Linked DNA regions of Homo sapiens: regions 1 and 3 are each linked to region 2. The links come from fine-mapping of genetic effects on gene expression. A gene starts in region 2. Each other region holds a variant in brackets. All regions are shown on one strand. Distances are from middle to middle.

Evidence for each region. PIP is the estimated chance that this variant, and not a neighbour inherited with it, causes the effect.
Region 1: its variant is the best candidate, but not a certain one, in a credible set for the expression of ARFIP1 in subcutaneous fat (GTEx, PIP 0.60).
Region 3: its variant is the best candidate, but not a certain one, in a credible set for the expression of ARFIP1 in whole blood (INTERVAL, PIP 0.72).

The regions. Positions count from the first base shown.
Region 1 is chr4:152,949,267-152,954,493 of GRCh38, reverse strand. FHDC1 (FH2 domain containing 1) reads right to left here. Exons shown (of 12, transcript NM_001371116.1): 3 at 934-995; 4 at 175-277. Among named protein-coding and RNA genes, the nearest start is that of FHDC1, 16 kb to the right of the region's middle. RefSeq lists an enhancer at 4,283-4,577. The variant GTT/T (reference allele first, on the strand shown) is at 2,890.
Region 2 is chr4:152,776,881-152,782,107 of GRCh38, reverse strand. ARFIP1 (ARF interacting protein 1) reads right to left here and starts at 2,154. Exons shown (of 9, transcript NM_001025595.3): 1 at 1,882-2,154. It overlaps TIGD4 (tigger transposable element derived 4), which reads left to right and starts at 2,378. Exons shown (of 2, transcript NM_145720.4): 1 at 2,378-2,626. RefSeq lists enhancers at 1,877-1,926, 2,117-2,276, 2,727-2,936.
Region 3 is chr4:152,879,679-152,884,905 of GRCh38, reverse strand. ARFIP1 (ARF interacting protein 1) reads right to left here. Exons shown (of 9, transcript NM_001025595.3): 6 at 3,722-3,943; 7 at 2,026-2,183. Among named protein-coding and RNA genes, the nearest start is that of FHDC1, 54 kb to the left of the region's middle. The variant G/A (reference allele first, on the strand shown) is at 2,531.

The DNA.
Region 1 (5,227 bases), 170 kb before region 2:
ACTGGTCTCAAACTCCTGACCTCAGGTGATTCATCTGCCTCTGCCTCCCAAAGTGCTGGGATTACAGGTGTGAGCCACTGCTCCTGGCCTTCCATGTGAGCTTTGACACACTTAAAAATATTAAGCTTTTATGATCACTCCTAACATCTACAACTCATGCGCTGAATTTCTTACCTCTTCTGACTCTGGCAAAAACTTAAGAAATTCTCGCAAGGTCTCTGATCCATAATGCTCACTTTTTCCTTGATGAATATCTTCTACAATGGACCGAGGAGACCTTGAAAAGACAATGAATCACATTCCATTTCACGTTTGCTGGAGTGCCAACAGAGGTGCAAGCCAGTGGAAATTAAATCTCCTCCACCCTCCTTCCCACCCACCTCCTTCCCAGACTGGCTGGCAGTTTTGTGTGAGTGCTCATAACAGCCCCACTGCCTCAAAACAGGGAACCCAACACTCCACTCAAGGGCCCTTCACCCAGAGCACCATCCTTGGGCATCCCAAAAAGGCTGAAAGCAGCAACAACCACTGGGAGTCTCTTTTGTTGTGAGAAAAATAATCCTCTTTGGTCTCACTGAAACCCCTGCACAACCTTCTCCTTATACTTCAGAACACAAAACTCTGACCGCTATTTGACTCATCAGTCCAACCTCCACTGAAGGGGCAACACTAAAGGTGACTCTGAAGGTGTCCCTGATGGGACAGGCTTGAATGGATGCCCTGGGGCAATTCTCCATATACTTCAAGCCACTATGTTATGTTTCCCTGAAGAAAAACAGCAGAAAGTGACAGTCACTTGCAGGCTCATCAAGCCATGCGTCTAAGAAGGATTTGAAGGTGTGAGGAATTTGAATTCCAGCTCAGTCACACCCACAGACTTTGATGCTGACAGCAGGGATATGACTAAAGTTTCAAATGTGTGCAAAATCTTACTTCTTAAATTGCTTAAGAAATATCCCAATGTTCATGCTCCGTTTTGCATCCAAAATAGTAATCTGGAAAAAAAAATAAGGACACATAGGATTACTAAATTCAAATAAAAAGAGATGGAGAAAGAAGATAATTAAAACCGATCAAAATGCAACACTAATTTATCAGAGAATAATTCCCAATGTATAAATCTGGTGATTAACAGATATTCCTAACATAGTTTTACAAATATTAAAAGATTATCATCTCCCCAAACTTTCTACAGTGGTATTATATTTCCTTAAATGTAATAATAACACATACCTACTTTAATATTATATAACTTTTAATATACAGATGGTCCCGACCTATGATGGTTCAACTTATGATTTTTCAAGTTTACTATGAGTTTAGTGGGATATGAAATGCATTTTCTTTCTTTTTTTTTTTGGAGACAGAGTCTCGCTCCGTTGCCCAGGCTGGAGTGCAGTGGCACCATCTTGGCTCACTGCAACCTCTGCCTACCGGGTTCAAGTGATTCTCCTGCCTCAGCCTCCCGAGGGCAGCTGGGACTACAGGCATGCACCACTATGCCCGGCTAAATTTTGTATGTTTTGTAGAGATGGAGTTTCACCATGTTGTCCAGGCTGGTCTTGAACTGTTGACCTCAAGTGATCCACCTGCCTCGGCCTCTCAAAGTGCTGGGATTACAGCCATGAGTCACTGTGCCCAGCCACATTTTCAACTTAGAATATTTTTGACTTAACAAATGGGTTTTTAGGATGCAGCCCCATCGTAAGTTGAGAAGTATCTGTAAAGTCAGTCATCCTTTAGTATCACAGGGGATTAGTTCCAGGACCCCTGGGGATACCAAAATCTAACGATGCTCAAGTCTTACATAAAATTGCATAGTATTTTGCATATAATCTATGCACAACCTCCTGCATACTTTAAACCATCTCTAGATTACTTGTAATACCTAAGACAATGTAAATTATGTTATGTAAGGGGTTGTTATACTGTATTTTTAAATTTGTATTATTTTTTATTGTTGTATTGTTATTTTCTACTTTTTTCTGAATATTTTTGATTCATGGTTGGTTGAATTTGAGGATGCAAAATCTGCAGTCATGGAGGGAGGACTGTAAATATACACTTTAAATGTTTTAAATTTAGCAATTTCCTCTTAGAATAATATCACCCACATTTAAAAGCCCCAATTTAGAAATGGATGTCTTGGCCTAACAAGAATCGCGTGAGATTTGAACTGAGAAAATAAAAAACAACTCTGAAGATAAGGCAGATTGAGTCCCAACCCTGATTTATGGACGTAAAAGAACCAATAAAGTCATATTTCGGAAACATCATTAAATTTTTTTCTAAAAGAAAAATTTCATTTCATTCAAAAAGTTTACATATGTCCAACAGACCTTTTAGGAGGGTGTAAGGTAGTGTCCTACATTTTGTTTACTCACAATTTTAAAACGAAAAATCTTGTGCTGTATACATTTCACCAAGGATAAGATACTTTTTTGTTTGTTTGTTTGTTTGTTTTTGCATTTTTCTGATCTCTGGAATCAGGATGTGCCTTACAATACATGGCATCTTTTTATTTAATGAAATATGGGATAGCTATTCTGTCAAAACCCAGATTGAGCTGTAGCAGGTTTTCACTGATCAAAATTTCAGGTGGCTTTATCAGACTAGAAATGAGAACTTTTTTTGGCTGTTAAATACAGAAGCCATTTCTGTCTCTGGATGTAAACATCCCGGCTGCGTGGAGGAAAGATAACCTGAAAACTGCTGCAGTTTTTTCCCGTTTGTTTTTTGGTAACGGGAGACTAGCTAAAATAGGAATGTTGTTATAATGCTCTTCCTTTCCAAATGTATGTGATTCACTGTGAACAAAAGAGAATCAGGTTTCAGGCTAAATTCCTGATCTCTGGGTCTGCTTCTGAGTTGATAACCAGCAGCGAGACT[GTT/T]AACCAACGTTAATGTCACTTCCTGGCTATAAGGTTAAATTTTTACAAGAGTATGGTTGCCTTCTTTTGAAGACTAATCTTTAACAGTCACATTATTTACTAACCTAGGGGTTTATTTCATGTTAACACAATCACCTGCCAGCCATAAGGTAAAAACTCCCAAGCTGAAAGGGCGGCCTCCTTATTGGAATCCTATCTGGGGACTGCAGTTCAAGTTCAGTGTAAAGGGAGGAGAGGAGAGAAAGAAAGGGTGAGAATAAAACCTGTCAAACTCAACACCCTTTAAAAGGTCATACCAAAAAAGGAATCTCGATTTATTAAGACAGAAAACTGGGTTCATTAGAATTAATAAATTAAAAGGCCATGCATAAGAATCTGTATGTTGATATAGTTACACAGCACGTTCAAAGAACTTCCTCTGCATTCACCTAGGATGGATAAATGACTTGTTTCGTATTCCTTTCATGAAAGTGCCACCTTCTGCTACATTCAACCCTTGACTGCAGTGCTCTCCCACACCCCACGTGAACCAAGCCCCACGCTCATCCTGTTCACCCCTCAACCCTCTGGGACTCTCTTCACTCAGCCTAGATCCGGAGACATTGCTGCAGGAAAAGTGAAGGAGAAAATTACTCTTATGATCTCTACTGGACAGGTAAGGAAACTAAGCCTCATAGACATCATTTTATAACTTTCCCAGAGCAGTGTTGAACTGATAGGTTAGCCTGGTTCTCTCTGACTCCTTTTCACTCTAGTTTCTGTGGGTTTTCACATTACTGAGCTTCCTATAGAGACGTAGCAAACGTTCCCTACCAGCATGGTGCTTGCATTGTGAGTTTTCTCCAGGAATGGGGACAGATGTGTAAGAAGCTATACGTGTGCCTGGCCAAGTCCCCTGGTGACCCCAGAGCTGTATCTGAGAGATGACAGATGGGAATCATGTTCTCCCCAGGCAAGAGAGCCTCCAGGGGCCTGAGCCCTGGCCCTACAGGAGCAGCCCACGGTGCCCCAACACAGGGGCAGCCCAGCTGTAGAAGCAGGCGTCTCTACAGCTCAAGCTGTGTTTCAGAAACAAAGAGAATTGGGTGATATTCCTAAGGGAAAACCCGAGCTGGCTGTGACTGAGCACCTTACAGGAAAAACAGAGCCCAGCACTTCACCCAAACAACATTAAAATGAGACAACTGATATCATTCAGGGACAGTCCCACTCGCTCCCGGCATCCTCAGATTTGCCTGGTGTCTGAGGAGTCTCTTTCTCCACTTTATCGCATTCGATCCTTCCAAAGCAATGTTATAAGGGTGACTGTTGAAGTCCTTTAAAGAGGGTTATCACTGCACATGTAAATTAGCTTATCTCACTTCCCAAATGCTTGCTCTCTCAAAGCTGGGCCATTCAGAAACAAAGTCGGGTCGGGTTGGGTGGTGTTTTGGAATCATTCAGAGCAGTGGAATCTGCACATGGGATCCCAGTGGGACTCACTGGCTGCACAAGCTGACAAATCAGAGGCAAGAAACTGCCCAAAGAAGAGGGATAAACAAACCCAGCCAATGAGTGAGCTGCATCATCCCCTCCCTCCCACCAGCTCCGATCAACCGGTAATTACTCCTCTGGTCACACCAGGACATGCAGGCAGGACCGCCACAGAAGTCGGTGCCACGGGTACAGTCAGCATACTGCAGAGTTCGTTACCTCTTCCCCCAAAATTCCTACCAAAGAGTGGCAAACAAGGCAGCTTGAAATATAAGGTAATGAGGTAATTAACGCACTCAACTCATTTCAACATTTCAAGGATTTCCTGCTAGGATGCGAAGGGGGCCTGGGCTCTACTCACAGTTTCCCCGCAACTGCCAGGGGGCCAGGGTTGTGCTGATACCCACTGAAACAGTCAGCAGCACTATGCCACTCAGTGAGACATGTGGCTACACCATCACTCTTGCTAAAACCTCCAAATCAGCTCTTCTAGTTTATTCTACTACAACTTTTGTAGTTTCAATTCACTTCATCAATCCACTACAAAATCTGCCTCCCATATCCTTTGAAGGAAGAAGAAACTTTTTTTCAGTTGTGGTAAAATACAAATAACAATTGCCATCATAACTTTTTATTTATTTATTTTTTTAGAGACAGGGTCTTGCTCTGTCACCTAGGCTGGAGTGCGGTGGTGTGATCATAGCTCACTGCAGCCTCAAACTCCTGGGCTCAAGCAATCCTTCTGCATCAGCCTCCTGAGTAGCTAGGACTAGGGATGCATGCTGTCACACCTGGATAATTTTTAAGACATTTTTTTGTGGAGATGAGGTCTCACTATGTTGCCCAGGCTAGTGTTGAATTCC
Region 2 (5,227 bases):
TTTTCACTAACTTCAACAAGATACTGCCTAAGTGGAAAACACACACACACATACACACACAAAACCTGTTTTCACTAACTTCAACAAGACACTGCCTAAGTGGTGGTTTTAATCTATCAAGAGGCTGTATATCTCCTTTGAGAATTTGATAAAAACAATGGACACTTTCCCCAGGGGGGAAAAAAATTCACTCAAACAAAACTGCATATAATTTCAGGGGTGGGAATGAGGAAGACCCCTGAAAGTTGTTGACCCTTAGGCCATGAACCCCAAGTCATCATCCAGGATTAAGGCAAATCATAATCCAAGGAAAACCAGTTTATCAATTTGGAAAGAAACTAAAGTAACTGAGGCAGGGATTTAATCCACAAAATACATTAGAAATCTTTTCTCTTTTCTCAGATAAAAGTGTGTTAGACTTGGTAGTTGGGAGAAGACGTGGGTCATGCTAAGCAAGGAAAACAAAACAAAAAACACCACAGGACAAACGAAAGAAAAGCAGAATTAAGGCAGCAGTAAAATATAGTAATCTGTAGCCGCTCTGAGAGAACAGCAATGAAATGGCCAATTCGGCCGGGCGCGGTGGCTCACGCCTGTAATCCCAACACTTTGGGAGGCCGAGGAGGGAGGATCATTTGAGGTCAGGAGTTTGAGACCAGCCTGGCCAACACGGTGAAACCCCGTCTCTACTAAAAATACAAAAATTAGCTAGGCGGTAGTGGCGCCTACCTGTAAACCCAGCTACTCAGAAGGCTGAGACAGGAGAAAAGCTTGAGCCTGGGAGGTGGACGTTGCGGTGAGCCGAGATCGTGCCAATGCACTCCAGCCTGGGCGACAGAGTGAGACTCTGTCTCAAAAAAAAAAAAAAAAAAAGAAAAAAGAAAAGGCCAATTCCTGAAGCCTTAACAGACGGCTGACTTAAGGTAACCATTTCTGGTGCACATTTCTATGCCAATTAAGTTAATTAAATGGCAAACATGAACACACCCTTACAGGTGAAAGTATGAAAGCAAAAGTTTATGCGAAGTTCTGGATCTCTTCCGGCTTTTCCTTATCAAATAATAATGTAGTTAGATGAATTTTATACTTTAGGAGAAAACAGGGTAGGGGCGGGGGACAGAAATCCTAAGAGTGGCCAAAGGATCTGCAGGAAGTATAAAGTGTAAACTTTTTGAAATCAAAGGGCTCAAGAGGAAGGTAAGAACAAAACAAAGGAAGTAATAACAAAATAAAGTAAAAGGGAAAAACGTCTAGCATCTAAAAACTGTTTTTAAAAAATTATTTCCTTTTCCTAGACACGTAAACAGTAGTAACTTGGCAAACAGGAACGGAGCAGAAGACAATCGAACAACTCCCTTTCCAAAACTCCAGCATTCCTTAGTCAGGCTTGGGACATTTCACAGGCAAGACTCCTCTCTGCACCACTGCCAGATGAATCTCTCAGAGGGACTGTCACTATCTCCCTTCCTCCCACTGCGGGAGAGAGGAAGCTGGGGATGCAGGGAGAAGAGGGGAGAAATGAGGGTTGGACAGCAAGCCTGAAGGTGGCCCACTCCGACACTTTGTCAAGAAAGGTCCGGATTCTGGATCCTGCAACTCCTTTTCCCACCCAATGTATGCAAAGCCAAGAGAGTGCCTCCCTGCAAGGGCCGGTCCTACACCTTCACTCGACTGTTTCGGGGGCACACTCAGAGGGACAGAAGGAATGAAGGACAGAAGAAACCAAAGGCATAACACTTGGGCAGATACGGCACAGACTAAGGAGAGGCGTGCCCTGTGAAAGTTCGGAACGGTGAACCCGTAGGCAACGTGCCCGCCCCACCAGCCACCTCAAACCATCTTTCCCCCGCCTTTTCCCAGGCGAGCCAGCTCCGCCCTCACCTTTCTTAGGGTAACTCGGTAGCTTCTAAGTCGAGGCTTATCCTTTCCGCCGCTCTCTGGAATCGCCTCAACCCTGGCAAAAACTGAGCGGAAACGCGACCCGGACCTTTTCCTTCTTCCCCTTCCCCCACGCACCTCGGCTGCTCGGGGGCGGGGAGCAACTGCAGCTGTCACAAATTCACACTGACCAACCGCCGAGGACAGTCGGACCGGCGACCTCTCAACCCAGCCTCCAGAACCAGAACCAAGAGCAGCGAAGCCGGAAGTGAGGAGACCGGAAGTAGCGTTGTCCCTGGCCCTGGACGGCCTCTCTCTCCCTCAATCCGGCCTTGCCCGGCCACGTCTCGGTGGTGTCAGCGCACCTCCCACGAGGATCCCTCCGCCCTTCTCCGGGAGGCGGGCTACGCCCCTCCCTCTGCTGCCCTAGCAACCACATCCGGGACTCCGGCGGTGTCGTTGCCCGGGTAATTTTCTGGCAGCGACCTAATGCGCGCGGGGCCAGAGGCACCGGCTAGAGCTGGGAGCTTGCGGAAGGGCGCCCCTGCCTGGTCTTGAGAGGTCGAAGGTCTCCAGGAGGCCTCCGCCTCCCTCTTTTTCATTCACACACCCTAGCCTCACACGTTAGGAGGACCCCCCCAACAGACCGTGAGCTGGTGCCGGGAGGGTGGAGGTAGATGTACCTCACCTCCACGCTACCACAGAAGAGCGAAAGCTGCTTTCTCAGCCACCGGAGAGCACGAAGAAGGTTATTCCAGTCCCGGGGGGAAGGTGGGGGTGGTAGGGAGAATGCGAAGATAAGGCAGCAGACGGAATGCGGGCGCTGCCTCGCGCTGCCCCCGTGCCTGGGGAGCCCTCTCCCTTCAGAAAGGCTAGACCCCCGGGCCCGGCATCCCTGAGCTCTTACTTGCTCTGGATTTGTGATCGCTTTTTGCTTTTTGCTCGCTCTCTCACAGTAGATTCCTTGATACTTTTCTTTCCGGCTCCTCTTTCTTTTTCCGGATGACCGAGCTCTGCTTTCTTTGCTTGCCCCATTACTTCTTAAATAGATCATTGTTCTGTCACGGAAACTGCTGAACAATTCGCTCTCTCAGAGCCCTTCGTAGTTTCCTAAACGGGGCCCCAACCTGCACTACTCTCCCCATCCCCAGAGCTCAGTGGTGCGAAAGCGTGGCTCCCCCGTGGCGCTAGATAGACCTGAAGTTCATTTACACACTGTACCATACAGTTGGTCCATCACAGAATATCCCTTCGAACTGCTGGACTGCTTTTCCTTTGACAGCTTTGAATGCTCATTTTTACTCCCATTTCACTTGTAGAAATGCGAAGGGTAACTGTGCACACGGCGAGATTTACCCTTCTTTAGACCGTACTTCTCAGCTGCCTTTACTTGTCACAGTAGCTGACAAGATATTTTTAATGACTAATGCCCAAAGGCAGAGCTCTACCTCTACAGATTTCCAGGGAGTTTCAGTGTAGTGAAATATCCCTGGCAGGTATCTTCCCCAGATCTGTGAATAGTAAACACCTATGGCACCATAAATGTTTCCAATGTATAACAATATTGATTGAGCTCTCTAGGATACCACCTCTTAAAAAAATAGTACTGAAATTCCAAAACATAAATCTCTTATCTTAAGTGGTTCTGTCTTAAACAAAAGAAAGGAGCAAATATATATGCCAACCCACTCAAACTGTAACTTCAATTGTTATAGCTTACTGTGGATTTTTCTGTACAAAGCCATCTTGTTGGTTTGGAGACCATTAGTCTTCTCAATTATAAGAAAATAATCCCAATCTAAATTAATTACTGCTGTAATTGTGTAGGAACTGAGCAACTACAGAACTTGCAGCTAAGTACAAGTGTTGTTCCTAGGGTTTCAGAAGGGTGACTTGGAGGAAGTGTACGGTAGGACTCAGCGGTGCTTGAATGATGTGGACAATGAATACTAAATTGTTTTTGCTGGCTGTTATCTTAAAGATTCCTGCTAGCTGTCTCTTGAGTTTGGAGATGCTTAGCTTGACTAAAGTTAGTCTAACTATTAGACTGTCAGACTCTGAAGTGTTTCTTATTTTGGAAAGGTGAAGACTTGCTTTAGTTTGTTCATAGTTTCCTTGGCAGCTGCTGATGGTTTTGATGGAGATTCAGATGGATTTGGAACTAATGCTAACTTCTGCTTGGTGAAGATGCTAACCAAGTTAGATACTCTTCAGTGAATTCTGGTACTGTGTACGATTAATCCTCATCCACAGTATTACGCTGTGCAAGGCTATATATACACAGGATTAATCTTTCCATGATTTCCACTGCCCTGAAGGAAATTAGAATGTAGTCTGGCTCCAAGAAAACACTAGAAACTACTTCAGCTGGTGATGGAAAATAGTGGAATTCTATACATCCTTTGAGACAATGGAAGCAGCAAACCAGCGTTCTTTGGATTGGGGAATATTTTTGGTACTAACTGAAAAACATCATTTTAAGCCTGGCCCTGCTTAGAGGAGACTTGTTTTCTCTTCCCTCTCTCCCTCTCTTCCTTTTTTCCCTCCTTCCTCTTTTTCTTTCCTCCTTTCCTTCTTGTCTCCCTCCCTTCTCCTTCCTTCCTTCTTCCTCTTTTTCTTTCCTCCTTCCCTCCCTCCCTCCCTTCCTTCCTTTTTTCCTTTCTCCCCTCCTTCCTTCCTTTTTTTCTTCCTTCCTTCCTCCCTCCCTCCCTTCTTTTCTTCCTTTCTTCCTTTGCCCTAAAACTTGGGGGACCCTGCCTGCTCATTTTGTTTAGAATAGAAGATTACTACTTTTCTCTGAATTGTCATTTATTTTTAGAGAGGTAAGAAAAAAGGGAATAGCTGCCTTCCATATATACTTATGACATGGAGATTATCTACTCATTTAACTTTGCACTGCTATTGGCTGTTTATTTGGCTTTTGAAAAATCAGGTGCTATTTATTCATTGGGCTTGTGGGGAACTCTAGTAGCCCTGAATGGCATTTGTGGCATACTCAATGAAGTCTAATTCTTTATCCTGGCATTAAAGGCTTACCAAGATCTGGCCTCAATCTTGCAAATGAGCACTCTCTTATATACCTGAAGGAAAAGTGCTAATTTAGCCAACTAATAGAGATAGGTATAAATACCAATATAGACATAGATATGAAACTTTAGTTGCAAAGAAATGTTTAATATGCTTCAAAGTGCATATTTCCCTCTTCCATGCTTTATTGTCTATTCTTATCAGCAGAAATGTTTTCCTATTTTTCCTTACCTGTGATGTACCTATCCATCCTTTACAGTTGAGTTCAGATGCTACTTCTGTCATGAACCCATTATTTATCCTCCCTGTGAGAATTCATTTT
Region 3 (5,227 bases), 100 kb before region 2:
CTTGATTTATAATTTTGTTCAAAAGTTCCAAATGAACCTATATACTGTATTTTATAATCTGAGATCTTATACCACATTATACTTAGGGCACTAATACTCAGGTATAAGGCCTACTGATAAAATGTGAACCATAGAGAACCAATGGGTTCTTATTTTGCCTTTGAAATTGACTACAAGTGAGCAAACCATTTAACCTCTAGAGTGTTTTCTCCTCTACAAATTAATTATAAACTGTTTAGAAATAAAAGCTGAAGGGAAAGAGATTATTATTAACGAAAATATATTTCAGGATAGGTAGACAATTGCAAAGTAGAGAAACTAGATTCACAAAGTTCTCAACTAGGAGGTGGTGGGGGTATTTTTGGAAGAAAACAATATCCATCTTTAAAACCCATACATGTTAAAACAATCAGAAGGACTAGAAAATATGAATATTTAAAATGATTAGAGATAAAAGAAACAGTACCATTATGAACAAATTAGGACATTATGAACAAGGAACAGAAAAATTTAGAAAAGGATCAAGTAAAACTTATATAAATGAATTTTAAAATTCATATACATAATGAACCCTTTGAAAAATATAATTTCCATGAAAGGATTTACACTGAGACTGAAACACCAATTACTGAGAATGTTATTGAAGAGATTTCCACGGAAGGCTATCTTACTAACAGCTATCCTCACCCTTACCCCTCCATACAACCACAGCTGTTTGACCTTCATTTTCAAGTCAATAAGAATCTCATACTTTAATACTAAATGGAAAATGACAAAATAAACATGGTATGGGACAGAAGCATCTCTTCCTGTGAAAACATCAAAAATTAACTTTTCAAAATGATTTGGGCTTTTACTTAATTGAAGTGTAAGGAAATATATATTTAATAAGCACTCAATTGCAAAAATACTAGATGAGTTTGGAGTTTTTTACAGGTATTTCTCATACCATTAAACTAGGATAAGAGGCCAAAGAGTAAAGTTATCCTTCTAAAAGGTAAAGTTTATCTTCAACTATGCATAAAAAGTATAATGGAAAATAAGAATTTTGAGTGCTCAAAAGAAAAAAACCTCAAAAGGGACTAGAATGATACTTAAATAAAAGGGGTAGGGCATATGGGGAAAAAATTGGGCCTGGAATCAAAAGGTGAAAAAGGCTATTATAGGTCTGCCATATTTTAGACCCTTCAAAATATTTATTAATATATTTATTAATATATATTTTGTTCACCATTTAACAGGATAGTTATGAGACAGGGAAACTGTATATATACATATATATATGAATATGGATATACAAAAACCCATTAAAATAGGATGTATAAAAACACTGCATTATGAACAGTTATCAAAATACAAGTCAAATATTTAATTTATATAAAAGGTAAAATTTGAAAGGGTTTGAAGGCTTGTTATAATCTGGATAAATGGAAGATGACTGATATCCTAACAAACAAAAATCATGGAGGCAAAATGAGCTTATTTATTCAATAGAAACTGAAAGTATGGGTCTGGCTATTGTGGAAGCAGTGGTAATAAGGATGAAAGGTAAATTTAGGCGAGAGTATAGAGGACCATGTAATACCTACCTGGTAGAACATAGGGCCCTGTCCTCTTCTAAAGAAGCCAGAGCTGGGAGATCCTCCATTTCCCTACTCACTAGAAGGCAGGGTTTGGGCACATGACCAAGGCTCAATTAGATAATCTCAAGGCAATGAAGCAAGTATTCATGGGTATTTAGGAAATTATTTATGGTAGCTGTGGCAGCATCAAGTACTAGAGGCACCCAGCATAGGGGTTCTAATTAGATTCTTCTGAGGCTTAACTTGGCTTTGGTTCTTGGTTGTTTCCAGAATCTTGTTCTCTCCCTTTCTGCCAGGTCTGTAGAGGCATCCTATAACTTTCCAGTACATTTTTTTCCTGCCCATATTGGCCAGAGTTGGTTTCTGTTGTTTGTAACCAAAAAATTAACTGAATTATATGCCATCTGTAAAACAGACAACACAGTGAAAATGTATACCTTACCTGGCACTTTCATACTGTTTCACAGTCATTAATGTATCTTCAATGGTTTTATTCACCAAAGTGTTCACACTAGCAATGAAAAAATTAATGGCCCCAAGAAGAGTCTCTCCATTTTTAGCCAGCAGTTTCTGGGTATCGGCATTATAGCCAAATTCTTCCTAAAACAAAGAAGTCACCTTAATTTATTCAGTAATAAATCAGTAAAAGTGACTTAAAAATCTCAAGCACGTCACTAATGGGAAAATATGTGATTTAGATAGAGATCTAGCTGTAGCAGTTTTACTTTTCCTTTCCGTCTTTAAGAATCGAAATCACAGCTAGCCATATAATTACTGAAAAAGTCTAATAAACCAAAATTGTCATCAGCTCAGATACATACCTAAAAGCTAAATAATTTTTTTAAGTTACTTTGTAGTAGAAACAATATTTTCATTTCTACATTTTGTTTCTATTATACTATAAGCACAGCTGTTGGAAAGAAAAATAGAGCAGATTATTAATCAGA[G/A]AAACTATAACTTTCACAGCCAAATTAGGTAATAATTGGTTAAAACTTTCAGACATAAAACAAAGTGCATTTTTTTTGTGTTTTGACTGATTCTCCTCAAAGTATAAATATTAACAATACATATTTCTTTGTAAACTTGGTGACTAGCTGACTCCCAAGCTCAGCTCTATTTAGGCACACAACTGAGGAAGGATCACTCAACACCAGCTTTAGTTCATTCTTTTTGAATAAACTGCATCTTGGTGCAGTAAACATTACACATGACTCCTTCAGATATGGCAAGAACTAACTCTAGCTCTGTATATTCAGCAGTGAAAGCTTTCCAGTGCAAGTTTTACTAATTAACAGATTAATCAGGATGCACCTAACCAAATAAAAAACCGATCACATATTCTAAGATGTATCATTTAATTTGATAATTCTCCAGTTTGTTACAAAACACTTTTCAATTTCAGTTGAAACAAATAATGTAATATTAAATTAACTAAAATATTAGAAGATACAAATTTAATGCTATTGCAATAGCTGTAATTACGTTTCTTAGGTGACAAAGTATTCAATAATTCAGAAAATAGCAGGAAAGTAAAATTATCCTTATTATGCTAAAACCATTTTCCATTTAAGAGATGTCCATGTAACTCCACTCTGTACTCAGTCTTCAAAATATTATAGACCTTGATTTGTTGCAAATATTGGCAGATAAAGGACCACATAAAAAGATTACCAATCAATGCATGTAAAAACTAAAATGAAAAGCAGGACAGCTTAAGATTTTTGGCACCAAATTTCCACAAGCTAAGTTACACACTTCACTGAAGTCTACATAAATGTTACTGGAAATAGAATAATACAGAAAACAACATTTTTACAACTTTTAGAAAAAGTTAACAGAACATATTACAACAGTAACCCTTGATATTGATTAAGGAGTAAAAGGCAAAATAAAATATTAACAAACAGGAAGAAAAATATGAAAGATTTATATACATATGATAATTCATAAAAAGTAAAGTTAACAGAAGTCATATCACTTTAAGAGGGCCTTCTTAAAGTGATATGAAATATCTTAAAAGAGAATCTCAGAATTCCATCTTCATTAAGAGTTCAGCAAATCACAATAACAAATTACCTCTTAGAATACTTCTATTATCATTTTCTCCCATCCCTAATAGTTATTTAGAATAATCTTACATGAAGTTCTAGTGACTTCAAACTCAGGTCAGCAAATGCATCTCCAAGTTGCCTTTGGGTATGTACCATCTGGAAAAGCTGGGTCGACAATGTTTGAGCCAGTTTTAAAATATTTTCATATTTTTTCTTGTTATCCCTTAATATATCAATCTGAGCTTCAAGTTCAAGGTCCACAGTTCTTGAGCCACGGCCTAGCTTCTCAGAGATAATCTGTCGAGTACACTAAAAGTGGAAGATGCATTTTGTTTAGAAAGAAAAAACAAAACAAAATATAAATGCTAGAGCATATGGCATACACCATTTTTTGGATTCAAACAAGCTAGCGTAACAAACTGAAAATTGTCAGCTCCCTTACTTGATCAGGACTCAGAAAGTAAATTCACCAGATGTGTCTAATAATTATTACTAATCAAAGGAAGTTTTAAGACATATCTAGCAAACTTATATACTGCCATAAGAACTCTCTCACATAATTATTTTGCAAGTTTAGTACATTTGGGTAGATTATCTAAAACAGAGATATTTGGCATTAAGACTAATATAGACTGTTAATATAGGAATAATAAGAACACCAAAATACTACTCTCCTACTGCTTTCAAATGCTCTTTTACTTCTATCTTCCCCCTTAAATGACTTGTATATATATATGTGTGTATGAATGAGGAATAAAGAAAGAAGAAACAGGAAGGAAGGAATGAAAGCGGGGGGGAAGAGGAAGAGAGAGAAACTACTAAGTTACTTTTACTCACACAGTGTGGTATTATATGATGTTATGTTATTGTATTCTGCCCCAGAAATAATAATACAGAAACCTATAATTTTTTTTTTTTTTTGTCTGAGATGGAGTCTCTCTCTATTGCCCAGGCTGGATGAAGTGCAGTGGTCCAATCTCGGCTCACTGCAACCTCCACCTCCCAGGTTCAAGTGATTCTCATGTCTCGGCCTCCTAAGTAGCTGAGATTACAGGCGTGCGCCACCAAGCCCAGCTAATTTTTTGTATTTTTAGTAGAGATGGGGTTTTGCCATGTTGGCTAGGCTGGTCTCAAACTCCTGGGCTCAACTGATCAACCTGCCTTGGCCTCCCAAAGTGCTGGGATTACAGGCGTGAGCCGTTGTGCTCAGCCTAGAAACCTGTAATTTTTAAAAAGTATCTAATTTCAAAGCACATGGAAATAAGTTTCCTAGTATTAATGTTTTACTCTCAACTTCATTCGATAATACATTTTAAGAATAACTGGGGCATTAATATATACCTCATCATTAAATGTTATCAGAAATATTCTTAAAAAGTAGTAAATAAGTACTACAATTTTTTGTTTTGTTTTGTTTTGTTTGAGATGGAGTTTTGCTCCTGTTGCCCAGGCTGGAGTGCAATGGTGCAGCCTCAGCTCACCACAATCTCCACCTCCCGGGTTCAAGCGATTCTTCTGCCTCAGCCTCCCGAGTAGCTGGGATTAGAGGCATGCGACACCACACGTGGCTAATTTTGTATTTTTAATAGAGAC